4 linked regions of the Homo sapiens genome follow. The protein of the gene in region 3 purifies or fractionates together with the protein of the main gene of each other region. This does not show direct contact. Each region holds a gene or a part of one and is shown on either strand. Other genes may lie near its edges.

Evidence for each region.
Region 1: the proteins of PHLDB2 (region 3) and SIPA1L1 purify together in Homo sapiens (affinity purification with mass spectrometry, with the first as the bait; one large-scale study listed by BioGRID). This does not show direct contact.
Region 2: the proteins of PHLDB2 (region 3) and SRSF12 purify together in Homo sapiens (affinity purification with mass spectrometry, with the first as the bait; one large-scale study listed by BioGRID). This does not show direct contact.
Region 4: the proteins of PHLDB2 (region 3) and RTKN purify together in Homo sapiens (affinity purification with mass spectrometry, with the first as the bait; one large-scale study listed by BioGRID). This does not show direct contact.

Annotation. Positions count from the first base shown.
Region 1 is NC_000014.9:71,582,476-71,585,975, reverse strand, and holds part of SIPA1L1 (signal-induced proliferation-associated 1-like protein 1), read right to left. Parts: intron 1-3,500.
Region 2 is NC_000006.12:89,095,459-89,098,265, reverse strand, and holds the end of SRSF12 (serine/arginine-rich splicing factor 12), read left to right. Parts: 3' UTR 1-2,307; downstream 2,308-2,807. UniProt on the Homo sapiens protein: Splicing factor that seems to antagonize SR proteins in pre-mRNA splicing regulation.
Region 3 is NC_000003.12:111,883,265-111,886,764, forward strand, and holds part of PHLDB2 (pleckstrin homology-like domain family B member 2), read left to right. Parts: intron 1-799; coding exon of another isoform or gene 800-813; coding exon 814-2,148; intron 2,149-3,500. UniProt on the Homo sapiens protein: Seems to be involved in the assembly of the postsynaptic apparatus. May play a role in acetyl-choline receptor (AChR) aggregation in the postsynaptic membrane.
Region 4 is NC_000002.12:74,435,438-74,438,937, reverse strand, and holds part of RTKN (rhotekin), read left to right. Parts: intron 1-3,500. UniProt on the Homo sapiens protein: Mediates Rho signaling to activate NF-kappa-B and may confer increased resistance to apoptosis to cells in gastric tumorigenesis. May play a novel role in the organization of septin structures.

The DNA of each region.
Region 1 (3,500 bases), on a different chromosome or scaffold from region 3:
ATAACCCTTCAAGTGACAAAACATGCTAACTGTTGCTTCCGAGGATATCAAAGGACAGCATATATGGCCATAGCAAAGGTTCAAGAAGTGATTCTCATAAAATGGAAGGAAAATTGAACAACTGAACCAAAATGCAAACACCTGTTCAACATCTCCCCAAAAGCTGATTATTTCAATGAATACTCTACATAGCATAAATAATACTTCTAAAGTAGATTTTATAAAAATTAGATGCTTTCAACATTTCTCACAACCTCACAGAAATCCAAATAAATCATCTTTCATTCCCCAAACATTCATTCTCTAAAAGGACAACACACCAATCCCACCATGATAAAAACTCTTGCCACATTTCATGTGCCTTAGAAAATACTTTACTGCACAGCTGTCTTTCCCAGGATATGTGAAGTTATTTCCATTAGAGGAGGAAACTAAAAGCTGGCAGTAAAATACAAGAAATAAAACTGACTTGGAAATGCTCAGTCTCCACCATCAGTATTTCTCTTCCAAACCATCTCATATACTTCCAATATTTTTAATGAGTTTATAAAATCTTATTTTTAAATATAAAAATTTCTTACCAATTCAAAAGAAATTTCAAGACTCCCATTACATTATATAACAACGACTCAATGTTTTCTTTTCATTTCAAAATATAAATAAGCACATGGGAGAGAGAGAAGCCACGTTTTAATGGCTTGTAAAAACTGATGAGGTTCGAGATGGGCAATTATGTTAAATAACAGATTTTTTTTCAGTCATAAGGACCTTCCTTTTCTATGTTTTTTTTTTCTCCCTCTCATTTTCCATCTCCCTCCCTCCCTCCCTCCCTTTTCTCATTCTTATTTATAGCATCAAACCCCTTTGGGGTACAATATAAACTTTGGGCACTGACTAGCATATATGGAAATATACATGCTTTGCACTTATTAAACTACCAGTCAAAAATAATGCTGTCCATCGATGTGTATCATATGATGACAGATCAATAATACCTTCACATCTATTCCTTAGGGTTGACTGAAACAGCAAACCTATGTTGACAATGATCAGCAACTCTCTTAAATATCAGCAAACCTGCCTAAGTACCAATATGGTAAAAAGCAATAGAATTAAACAGAAGAGCAATACGAATTCACAGCATGTCACCTCCATCTGTTGAAAGAGCAGGCTATATAAAAATTTTCCTTATTACATGTTTAATTTTACAGCTCTAGATACTATCTAAGTCTATGGTAGATCCAGGTAGCTAGAATACTAATTCCATCTAGAGGGCCCACAGTTTAGTTCAATGAGTTCAATTCAACTAGTTGAAAGTCTTTTCATCACTCAAGATCTCTCACAACCTAACCCACCATTCTTCCAGAAGAAATGCTTCCTCCTCTCATCCAAATCACCCCCTGTGTTTCTGTAGTGTCTTCAGAGCATGGACCATACATCCACCAGTCCCTCCTTCAAGGAAAGCTCCAGGTGTAGCAGGGAGACACAGACAAGTAAGAAGATGACGGGGGATGCATGGGTCATGCCTCCTTCCTATACACTTTCCATTTTGATTGTAAGCTCTTTAATAACAGAGCTTACAATCTCCTGCTGGGACTAATTGTACCACAGTAGGTCAGCCATTTAGAATATCAAGTCCCTGAGAATGCTGAAAGCAGAACCTCTTATGGGATCTCTTGATTGCCAAAAATCCCTTGTCATTCTGGCTCTGTGAAGCATCTGTACTCCTGAACCCATCCTCCATCCTGAACCTCTCTTTTCTGGACCTCTGTGATAACCATGTGCTTCTTCATTTTCTCTTGCCTCTTTTTGCCCACTACTCAGTCTTTAGTTGGGGTCCATTGAAAAGGTGGTGTCTATGGTTTATCTCTCTTGACATTTTTCATATTTCTGGAAAGGGGTATAAAAGGTATTTCTATCAGGATGCATGTGAGCACTGAGTGTATTAGGATGAGACAGAAGCATGGGTCCACTGGAGTAATAATATCACTGTGGAAAGCAGAGTGTTGATTGGGCTGGCTCACATTTGTCTGTGCAGCTGAACAAAGGCAGAATAATTAAGTTACTGGCTGGAAATCTGCATGGCAACCAGTACTCTGTCTGTTGATACTGTAGGTGCCTGCAGCTTTAAATATCATCTCTATGCTGTTACCTCCAAATCTCTGGTCATGATCTTCTCCACTAAACTTCAGATAAAATAGAGGTAGGTGCTCATTTGACATCTTCTTTATTTACCTATTTTACAATGAAATAACCAACAAGCAGAATAATGAAAAAAATTTTTTTTCAAGAAATGATTAAGTGGTAAGGAAGGGAGCACATTCTATTCCTAATTCAAGGAATAGAATGAAAGAAACAACATCGTGCCAAGGGCATAAAGAGCAGTTTAAAGGTTACAAGAAGAAGATGTGGGAAGGGGGTGGGGTTGGGGGAACACTACAGTTCCTGTTGTGAAAGAATTACAGTGCAATATGGTAGGGTCACCAGAAAGATGTAGCGTTCCTCATAAAATACTTCCACATTCCAAAATGAGATCTTCTCAGATTCTTTAACTGGTACAGCCTAAAATACAACGCCAGCTCTCAATGTTTCAGGGCAGTAGAAGGAACTGTGCTGATGAATAACTATTCAAATGCCCCAATAATTCAGAGATATACACTTCAGAAGTATTTATGAAAATTTCCAGGCCCAGCACAGTGCCTTGTGCCTGTAATCCCAGCACTTTAGAAGGCCAAGGCAGGCAGATGGCTTGAGCCCAAGAATTTGAGACCAGCCTAGGTAACATGGTAATACCCAGGCTCTTAAACAAACAACAAAAAAATAGAAATAGTTTTTGAACTTGTAAACACAGACTTAGAATGCCTGTAAATATTCTTACTTCAGAATGTAATAAAACACTATTTAAAAACAGAAATATAACTTCACAGTACTTGAATATTAGATGAGCTAAGATAATCAAATAAGGCAAACTATTTTCTTTACATCCCTTCTTGGCTTTCCTGAATTCCACTCACATTACATAAAAGTTGCATCTCAGACAGAAGGGATGGCTCACTCTTTCAAGTTAGCCTGAAACACATCTTAGTGCAATGTCATGGATAATTTAAGATTTATGAATCAGCGTAAAACTTTTTAGAATGGAATTTCTACCTCCTTTCATTTCTGTATTCTCCCTTCAACAAAAAGCAGGAAGAGTTGAGAAAAACAGTTGATAAATCTAGTTCCTGCTCTCCTAATGTTCACTCTCTGAAAGAGACAACACTGATGGAAACAAAGTCGAGTCAAAAAAACTTTTGGTAAAATTAACAAAGTGAATAGAAAAGTTATAGATACAAAACATGTAACATGATAAAGCTGTATTTGAATTTAGAGATAAGAAAGCAACTTAAAATGTGCCTGTTTGGACACAGGAAGGATCAAAAAGGAAAATCACATTTCCCTCCCACTCACCCTCGTAGCTAAAAAAGTTCAGTGAAGAAAGTTACGCTTCTAAGGTTTTG
Region 2 (2,807 bases), on a different chromosome or scaffold from region 3:
TTAGTACTATTAATAATACCTTTTACACAAATATTTTTGACTTTAAAGCACTTTCATGTAAAAAGTAACTATGACTGTATAATTGCATAGAGCAGACTTAAGCTGTTTGACACCTATGTCTCTTTTGTGTCTTCTGTTTAAACTTGGGCCAATTCCTGGTGGATATTAGTTCATATTACAAAATTCTGATGTTCCAAAAAGTAGAATATATATAGAGATCAAACATTCAAAAGATACATTCTCTCCTAAGCTCAAAGGTTATATTTTTATTGGGTAGAACAGTATAGGTAAGTTGACATGAAATTGCATCCTGCACCATGACCACATTAGTAATATCAGAACTTTTGAGAAATACTGGATTTTGAATGGTTTGAGACTAATTCTTTAAAAATTAGGCTGAGCAACACTCACAATCCAAAAATATTCATATTAAGACTTACACATTTGAAGAATGGTACATTTTGTATAAAATCATATTTGATACCATTATTTCCACATACCTACTTTTCATCTGTTGCTTAATTTTTTCTTTTTAGAGTTCTTGCTCAACTTTATATGGAACAAGTCTTATTATTTTTGAAAGAGTGTTTAGTACCTTGTATTAAGAAACTTGGCCAAGCGTGGTGGTTCACTCCTGTAATCCCAGCACTTTGGGAGGTCGAGGCGGGCAGATTGCTTGAGGCCAGGAGATTGAGACCAGCCTGGGCAACATGGTGAAATCCTGTCTCTAAAATTTAAAAAAAAGAAGAAGAAGAAACTCGAGACTACATCTTCAAAAAACAACTTTGCAGTATTTGAATTTTACATTATACTGCCCTTCATTTCTGACAGCCAAATAACTTTATTGATATTTATTGCTTTTGTAGTTGTTATAACTAATAATTTCTTTGAAAATGTGTTGTAGTTTATGTTTTTCAAAGGGTTTTGGTAGTGTTTGTGATAGAATGGTTTTGCATATGATTATTATAGGGGATATATTTATAGAGCTCTACTTGTATACTTTGTGACTTACATTATGAAAACTTCAAAGTTCTCAATCCATACAGTTAGTATTTGTATCCAGAGTGTTTAAGAAAAAAATCTGTCTTATATTTTTAGTATATAGGAGCCAGTGTTGCTTCTATTTGTTTTGAATACAAATTCCAGTTTTCTTTGCATATTAGATCCCATATGTAAGAAACAACCTTAAACAATAATTTGTATGCTGGTAATATTTGGACAAGTGCCATAAATTAATGTATATTGTACTTTCTGAATAGATTTTCTCTAATCATAGCAAAATTTATTTCAAAACTACAACTCTTTGAATTATTCCGCTATAATAAAATTTAGTTATAAAATTATGTGGCACTACTGAAAATCTAAAGGATAATCTGAAGAATGAGTAAGACAGATATTGATAGAAATTTTTAGTATTTTCAGAATGTTTGGGTTCATACACATAAGTGAAATCATTTTAAAAACTAGGGGCTGGGCACAGTGGCTCACACCAGTAATCCTAGCACTTTGGGAGGCCAAGGCAGGAGGATTGCTTGAGCCCAGGAGTTTGAGACCAGCCTGGGCAACATAGCAAGACCCCTTTATCTATAAAAATAATAATAACTAGGTACCATTGTGAAAAATAATAACTAGGGATTGATTATAGTATCTTTACTCTGTATTCACAAATCTCTGTATTCCTGAACATATTTAATCCTTTGATTTACCTCTGACTAGGTTTGTCATTGTAATCCCTGGGCTGCTTAGGAGGATACCATTTGGTTTGATGAAAAAGCTGGAATGATAATAGCTCAAACTCTTTTGAGCATTTAGTACATGCTTGGCACTGTTCTATATGTCTTAAGTTATTCACTCTTGTATTTAACCATCAACACTCTTATGAGGTAAATATCCCGCAATTACTTTTGCGCCAACCTAGTACCACTACAGACAAGGAAACAGATGCAGAGAGGCTAAGTTACAAGGGCACACAGCCATAAACTTTGGATCTGTGGAGTGACTGGGCTTCAGAGTCCTCTTCCTGACTGCTGTTCCTATGTCTTTTGCAAAGAGAAGTCTTTGACAGGTATATGCTTTATTAAAATCATGTTTAGAAAGAAATGAGAGAATAGAATTAGAAAAAGGAATGACTGTAGGCTTCGATGAAAATGACTTTTGTGACTAGGTGAAAATTGTTTGGCTGGGTATCCTGGAAAATTGTCTTCTGGGAATATCTATATTCCAGGGTTCACTTTTGTCATAGAATTGTTTCTTGGCCCATTTAAGAGAGATACTTTGTTTATTAATAAATCAAACGTTTTAATTTTAGACATCTGTGATCAGTTCTTTTAAAGAGACTATATTTATTTAAGTACTTCCCAAGTTTAGTGCAGGGGTACTACCTACCATTTATTCAGGATCATAGAGGATAAGTTAGGGTCAAAGAAAATAGAGACTGCCATGACAGCGGCTTGCTTGCTTTCTCCCCAGGAATAATGCACAAATAATTTATAGCAGCTGATATTTTTCGGTGTTAACAGATAATAGGGGAATTTGCTGAAATTTTTATTTGGAGCCTCGGATTTAATTTTAGGCCACTGGGCTAATTTATTTTTAAATGTAAATTAATTCCAGTACTTTATTTGTAAAGTTTACTTGAGATCTAACTGTTCTAAGACATGCTGTTGCATTACAAATAAGAATTGCTGCATTTATTTTGATCCCATTGCCAGAGGCAAAATTAGTCAAAATTTAAAGGTATGTAGAAATACTTTTGTAATCCTTCTAAACTACATTAAATTTCTGGCTGACTGGTGGCTCACACCTGC
Region 3 (3,500 bases):
TTTTAATGGTGGAAGATAGAATCCTGATCTGTCCCTGGAAGAGTGACTAGGTCCTGATAGTTGTTTCTGCTAGAGGAGAGAATTTGCAAGGATGAGCATAGTGCATTTGGGGTACTAGAAAATTTAAAGGATATAACAGTTTCAGGTTTTTAAATATACCATCCCGACCATGTGTCAATAATTGGTGGAATACCCTTTTCTTTGTTATTACCTACCTCTGATGACTAAAGGAGCTTTAAGTCTTTTTGTTGAGAAGGTAACTCCCAGAGTCCTTGTTTAAAGAACCATCTTCTAACCCTCATGTTATTGATCAGTGTCTAACGTAAACTTTTTTTTCTCTGCCCAAATGTGAATTTTGTTTCCTCAGGACTTTATTTCTGAACAGTTAATGATTCTAGCAGAGACAGCTATAGGAAAGTCCATTGCATTATGCCTTTGGGCATTAGCTAGTCACTAGGGAAGCAGGTGTTCCTCGAAGGGCCAGAACATTAAGGACAAATTGTCTTTTTTAATGTACCAGCCTAATCCTGCACCTTTACTTGGTTAGGGATTTGTTTCGCTCAAATGTCATTGCTGTCCTTTTATTTCTCTTTTGTACATAAGTTATCTCAGGTCAATGATCTTTATTCTCCTTTAATTTGCTGTATGGTTTTAACAGGTTTTTTAGTAAAACTGAGTTTGTGTTTGTTAGTTGCATTAGGTCAGACTGCAAGATTGTTTGTTCAGATGTAGGCCTAACAAGGGATTGTTCTTTTAAAATCTTCTTTAAGGCAAAATTTTCTGTTTTATTTCTTTACAGATTCCAGCAAGATTATGGAAGAGCATAGCTACATACAAAAGGAGCTAGATTTACAAAATGGTAGCTTAGAGGAAGACTCTGTGGTGCATTCTGTTGAGAACGATTCCCAAAACATGATGGAGAGCCTCAGCCCAAAGAAATACTCTTCCAGTCTGAGATTTAAAGCCAATGGAGACTATTCTGGCTCCTATTTAACCCTCTCACAACCTGTGCCTGCAAAGAGAAGCCCTTCTCCTTTGGGAACCAGTGTCAGAAGCAGCCCCTCCTTAGCCAAAATCCAGGGAAGCAAGCAGTTCTCTTATGATGGAACTGACAAAAATATTCCTATGAAACCTCCAACTCCTTTACTCAACACTACATCCTCCCTCAGTGGATATCCACTTGGAAGAGCAGACTTTGATCATTATACTGGCCGGGACAGTGAAAGGGCCTTGAGGCTCTCAGAGAAGCCTCCCTATTCCAAATATAGCTCAAGGCATAAATCGCATGACAATGTCTACTCTCTTGGAGGGCTGGAAGGTCGGAAGGCATCTGGCTCGCTCCTGGCCATGTGGAATGGAAGTTCCCTGAGTGATGCTGGCCCGCCTCCTATCAGCAGATCGGGAGCCGCAAGCATGCCTTCAAGCCCAAAGCAAGCCAGGAAAATGAGCATTCAGGACAGCCTGGCGCTTCAACCCAAGTTAACTAGACACAAGGAGCTTGCATCTGAAAACATCAATTTGAGAACTAGGAAGTACTCCAGCAGCAGCCTGAGTCACATGGGAGCCTACAGCCGATCACTTCCCAGGTTGTACAGAGCCACAGAGAACCAGCTGACACCTCTCAGCTTGCCTCCAAGAAACTCTCTGGGCAATTCCAAACGAACAAAACTTGGGGAAAAGGATCTACCTCATAGCGTAATAGACAATGACAATTACCTTAATTTTTCTTCTTTGAGCTCAGGGGCTTTACCCTATAAAACCTCTGCTTCTGAAGGCAATCCTTATGTAAGTTCTACCCTCAGTGTCCCTGCCAGTCCACGAGTGGCTCGGAAGATGCTTCTGGCCTCCACCTCCTCCTGTGCCTCTGATGACTTTGATCAGGCTTCATATGTGGGGACAAACCCGAGTCATTCACTTCTTGCTGGAGAGTCAGACAGAGTTTTTGCGACCAGGAGGAACTTCTCTTGTGGATCTGTGGAATTTGATGAGGCAGATTTGGAAAGCCTCAGACAGGCCTCAGGAACCCCCCAGCCTGCCCTTCGGGAACGGAAAAGCAGTATTAGCTCCATTTCAGGACGTGATGACCTGATGGATTATCACCGGCGGCAGAGGGAGGAAAGACTCAGGGAGCAGGAAATGGAGCGATTGGTAATCTTCATCTCAACAGTGATTGACCTCACTGTTTCATTAACCAGCATCTACAGGGCAGCCTTGGAGATGGACTCCAGGATATGTGGGAATATAGGATATTCATGTTCACTAGCCACAGCTGCTATCTTTCTCTTCTCTCCTGCTATCCTTCTTCTTCCCATATCACTATTAATAGGCTTGTTTGGCTATCTTGAAGGCCTCCAGGAATTAATGTTAATTTAGTTGCTCTGCGGACTTCTCACAAGTATAAATTCTTTAAAAACATAACAGAGGAGTTGGGAATTTTATGAAATTTCTGAGTCTTACAAACTTCTCTTTAAGACTATGAGGAAATGCTGACTTGTATTATTTATATCATTAAATTTGCTTGTGTATGGTTATGAGAAGTAGTCAGTGAAATCATGACTCACCAAGAATTAGGTAGTAAATTTGTCTTTATAGCAAGTTGTCTAGAAAGTTGGAGTTGCCTCAGTGGTGCTCAGCTTTTCTCCACACTGTTCATACACAACCTTACTATCTTTAGCTCTGATTCTTATCACGTACAGTGATTCCAAACTACACATACTCACAAGATCTATTGAGTTGTCTTTTTCCATTTAAAATGAATTTATACTTATTGTTGAAATATTGAAAATAAGACGGGGAAACATCCCTTGAGAGTCTCACCAATGAATGAGAACAAACAACTGCATTTTTCCTTTCTCTTTTAAGCACAGGTTTTTCTCTTAGAATGAATATCTGTGAGAGATTACTTTGATTCATTTTTGATTCATGATTTCCTTAACAAGAGAAGCTGCAGGATAGTAAAGCTGATTTACAGCAACACAGTAGGATTATCAGTGTTTTAGTCGCTAAAATATTCTAGAATATGATTTTTGAATCACAAAACTGGTTGATACCCTATAGGACAATAAAATTGTAACCCAGGCTTGTCCAACCTGTGGCCTGTGGGCCGCACAAGGCCCACAATGGCTTTGAATGCCACCCAATACAAACTCAAAGTTTCTTAAAACATTATGAGATTTTTTTTGCCTTTTTTTTTTTTAAGCTCATCAGCTATCGTTAGTGTATTTTATGTGTGGCCCAAGACAATTCTTCTCCAGTGTGGCCCAAGATTGGACACCCCTGTTGTAACCTTTGGATTATAATGGACAGAAACCATTTGCATCCATCCAGAAGGAAATACGTTTGACATTTTAGAGCAGTAATCATTTGCATCACTCATAGTTTTTGATAAGTTGATGTCTGTTCTTACAGAGTTTTCAAATACCCTAACTGACAATAGTGAATGAAAACAAATGTGCATACCCTTAGAGAATTTAGACAGTCTTTGAGTGGGTCAGTTATAC
Region 4 (3,500 bases), on a different chromosome or scaffold from region 3:
TACCTCAGTGAATAAGACAAGAAAGTTCCATTGTAGTGGGAGAACAGAAATATACATACGAACACATAAATAATATCACATAAAGAAATTATGATGAAAATGGGGATGTAATGAAAATCAGATGAGGGAGGCAATGTTAGATGTGGAGGTCAGGGGAAGCCTCTGTTGGGAGATCTTTGAGCTAAGCCCAGGAGGATTTGGAGATATGTGAAGACTGGAGGAAGGGCAAAGGCCCTGATATGAGGATGAGGGTAATATATTTGTGGGAAAGAGAGAGCCAGTGTGGCTGGAATATAGTAGTTGGGGTGGAGCTGATGGGCAGGGGCCAGATCATGCAGGGCCTTGAAGGCCATGATAAGGCACCTGGATTTCACCTTAAGTGTGATGTTGGGCCATGGAAGGGTTTTAAGCAAGGGAATGACTCATGCCATGTTTTTAAATGATGGCTGCTATGGAGAATAGGCTGGTGGGAAGTTGAGGGTAGGGTTGGGGGTGGAGGGTTGGCAAGAGAGTTCGCAAATGTCCACCAGGTGGGAGGCTGTTTCACTCCCACTTCAGGTGGGAGTGAACCTGGTGGTGTGAATTAAAATGCTCATGGTGGAGAAAGGGAGTAGATTTCAAATGGTGGTGGTAGGTCTGACAGGATTTGCTGATGGATTGGATGGGAGGGCAAAGAAAGAGAACTCCAGGATGATTCCCAGGTATGTGGCTAAGCAACTGGGTGGTGTGGCTGTTTACGGAGATGGGGAAGATGGAGGAAGTTGTGGAAGTGACTGCCTGGACCAGGCAGGGGCTGCTGCTGAGAGGTCAGAGGCAGGACTGCAAAGAGTCTAGATCAGGAATGGCAGGATATTGTATGTGCTGTCCCCCCTCAAGCCCTGCCCCCACTCCCTGGATCATAGTAGATGTTACTGGTCAATTTTGGCACTCTTTATCAACGAGCCCAGACCTGGCCTCAGAATCTTTCTCAGGACCGTCTTGGCATAAACTGTGCAGGTTGTGTCCTTCACACAGGTGCCAGCCAGAGGTGAGAGTCCTGGTCTGGTTTCAGCGGCATCAGGAGGGAGCACGTTTATCTAATTTGTTTGCCTGGAGAGGGTCAGCTTTTTCTAATTTGTGGAAAGGTGTCCAGTGAACTCGTTGGGACTCTACCTAATTATCCTCCATCAGTGCATGAGATAAAACCTATTTGCCATTCATAGTCCTCTGCACTGTCCACATCAGTTACATATGGCTATTTAAATCTTACTTTTAGTTCATTAAAATAAAACAAAACATTAATTCCTTAGTTGCTGTAGCCATATTTCAAGTGCTAGATGGCTACTGAACATTTCCATCACCGCAGAAGGTTTTATTGGACAGAGCTGGTCTAGGTATGTAAATGTTTAAATTCTGCATCCTACCCTCCTCCAAAAAATGTAAATTTTCTCTGTGGAAGGCCTGTTCAAGTTCTGGGGCAGAGGAGATGCTTAGTTTCACTTTGGTCACTCTCCTTTAGGAGAGTGGCTGAGGGTGCTGTGTTCTTTCTCAACCAAGTTCAGCAGGTCCTCAAAAGAGAGACCCATTGATGTTTCAGGGAATGGCAAAAGAGATAGTCGTGGAAGAGTAAATCCAAGAAGACTTTCTGGAGGAAGTGACTCAAGTTGCAAGTAAAGGGGGCTTATTTTAAAATATGTGCTAGGCCCAGGTAGAGATGAGACTTTCCCATATAATTCTCAAACAATGCTACGAAGGAGGTGGAATACTCCCCATTTTACAAACTCAGGTTCCAGGGGTCAAATTCTGTGGGCTTGTCAAGTCCCTAAACCAGGATTTGTACTTAGCCCTGGTGGAGATTCTGAAGGGAAAAAAGGGTAGTGAGAAGCAGAGCAGGAAGTCAGAGACTTAAGAGAGTGGGAGGGGTGGAAGGGATATCAACAGGGGGCCTAATGTGTGTGGGGCCCATGACTCATCCTCTAGCCCCTTGGGATCTGACCCGGGTCCAGCTGACACCCAGCTCTGCGCTCTTTCCCAGGGGAAATGCTGCCCGCTTGGGGAGAGGGTGTGTTTGGGTGGGGAGGGGGCAACAAGGAACTATCCCTGGGTTGGGGAAACGCTAGAAGCACAAGGGTCCAGATCCTGAGCCAGGATTCCCAGTTCCTCTGCCTGAAAGGGTGGGAGCCAGTTTCCTAGGGCGCTCCCGGCCTTGGGCCTTGGGAGAGTGGATTTGGGGCTGGAGATCAGTAGGGAAATAGAGGAGGTGTCTGGACTCGTGGTCCCACTCATCCATGCTGGGCCCAGTGACCTCCCTAGGGCCCCAGCTCTCCCAATTTATACACTATTCGCCCTCCATACTCTCAGGCAAGGGGTCACCTTGGAGGGCAAACGCTACGCGGGAGGGGCCTCCCGGAGCTGGAGCACGTCGTGAAGGCCAGGAGCCTTTTCCAGGGCGGCGCGGGCGCACTCCTGGAGGTCCGGTCCCGCCGCGATGGAGTCTCGGTGGAGGCACCGCCTTGAGCCAAGCCCAGCCAGGTGCCCGGAGGGACCTCCAGCGCCCTGGTACCCCTCAGTTGCTCTCGCGGCAATTGGGAGCTGATGTCACCGGCGTCCTGAGCGCTGCAGCTGGAGGCGGTGCAGCTATGCTGGCGCCCTGGCTCCTCCGATTTCCCGCGGCCCTCGGACCCAGCCGGCTCCCCAGGCCAGTGCAGCTCTCTGGACCTCGCGCGCCTCTGCGCGCCTCTCGCAATGGAGCGGGCTGGGGAAGGATCCGTGAGTGCTGGGACTGGGATGAGACTAGCCAAGATGGGGGTTGAGGACACCTCCGTGTCCCCCTCCTGCCAGGCTCACCCATTTGGGATGTTTGTGGCTGAAGCTGGGTGCAGACTGGGGTGGGGGTTGTCGGGCAGCGCAGAACCCTGGTGCAGACAAAACTAGACTGGGAGGACCTATGTAGTCTGAAAGGGCTTCCTGGTGAGGGGCTTTGGGAAAGGGTTGGCTTATTACAGAAGGAAAACGGGTGGATGGTGATGGGGGAAGGTGATAAAAGTCCGGCCTAGCACAGTGGCCCAGAAAATAGCCAAGGAAGCATCTGTAGGCAGGCAGGACAAGGCTTTTTAGAAGAGGGAATTTAGGGTGTTCGGGTCTGAGAGACTTGAAGGCTGGAGCCACTAGGGACAGATGCAAGGGCACAGTGTATGGAGGAGAGCTGGTGTGAGGAAAAAGACAGGTTTGGAGTGGTCACATTAGTTCCCCTGTTTCAAATGGATGGCTCGACTTGTCTCCTGAACCAATCTGTACACTGTGATAGAGTTAGTCTTCCAACTCCTCTCTGAAGCTTTCCTTGATCACCTCAGCCAGAAGCAAACAGAGGCTGTTTCTTGTGAGCATGGTTGTGCCATGACATGGCACTTATGGAGCAGCCATTAAAGTCATCATCTCTCACCTCCCAGCTGGATTTTAAATGTACAACCTTGGACAGTACAGGGATGCTCCAGTGTTGACTGAGTAAATGCTGCTACCAC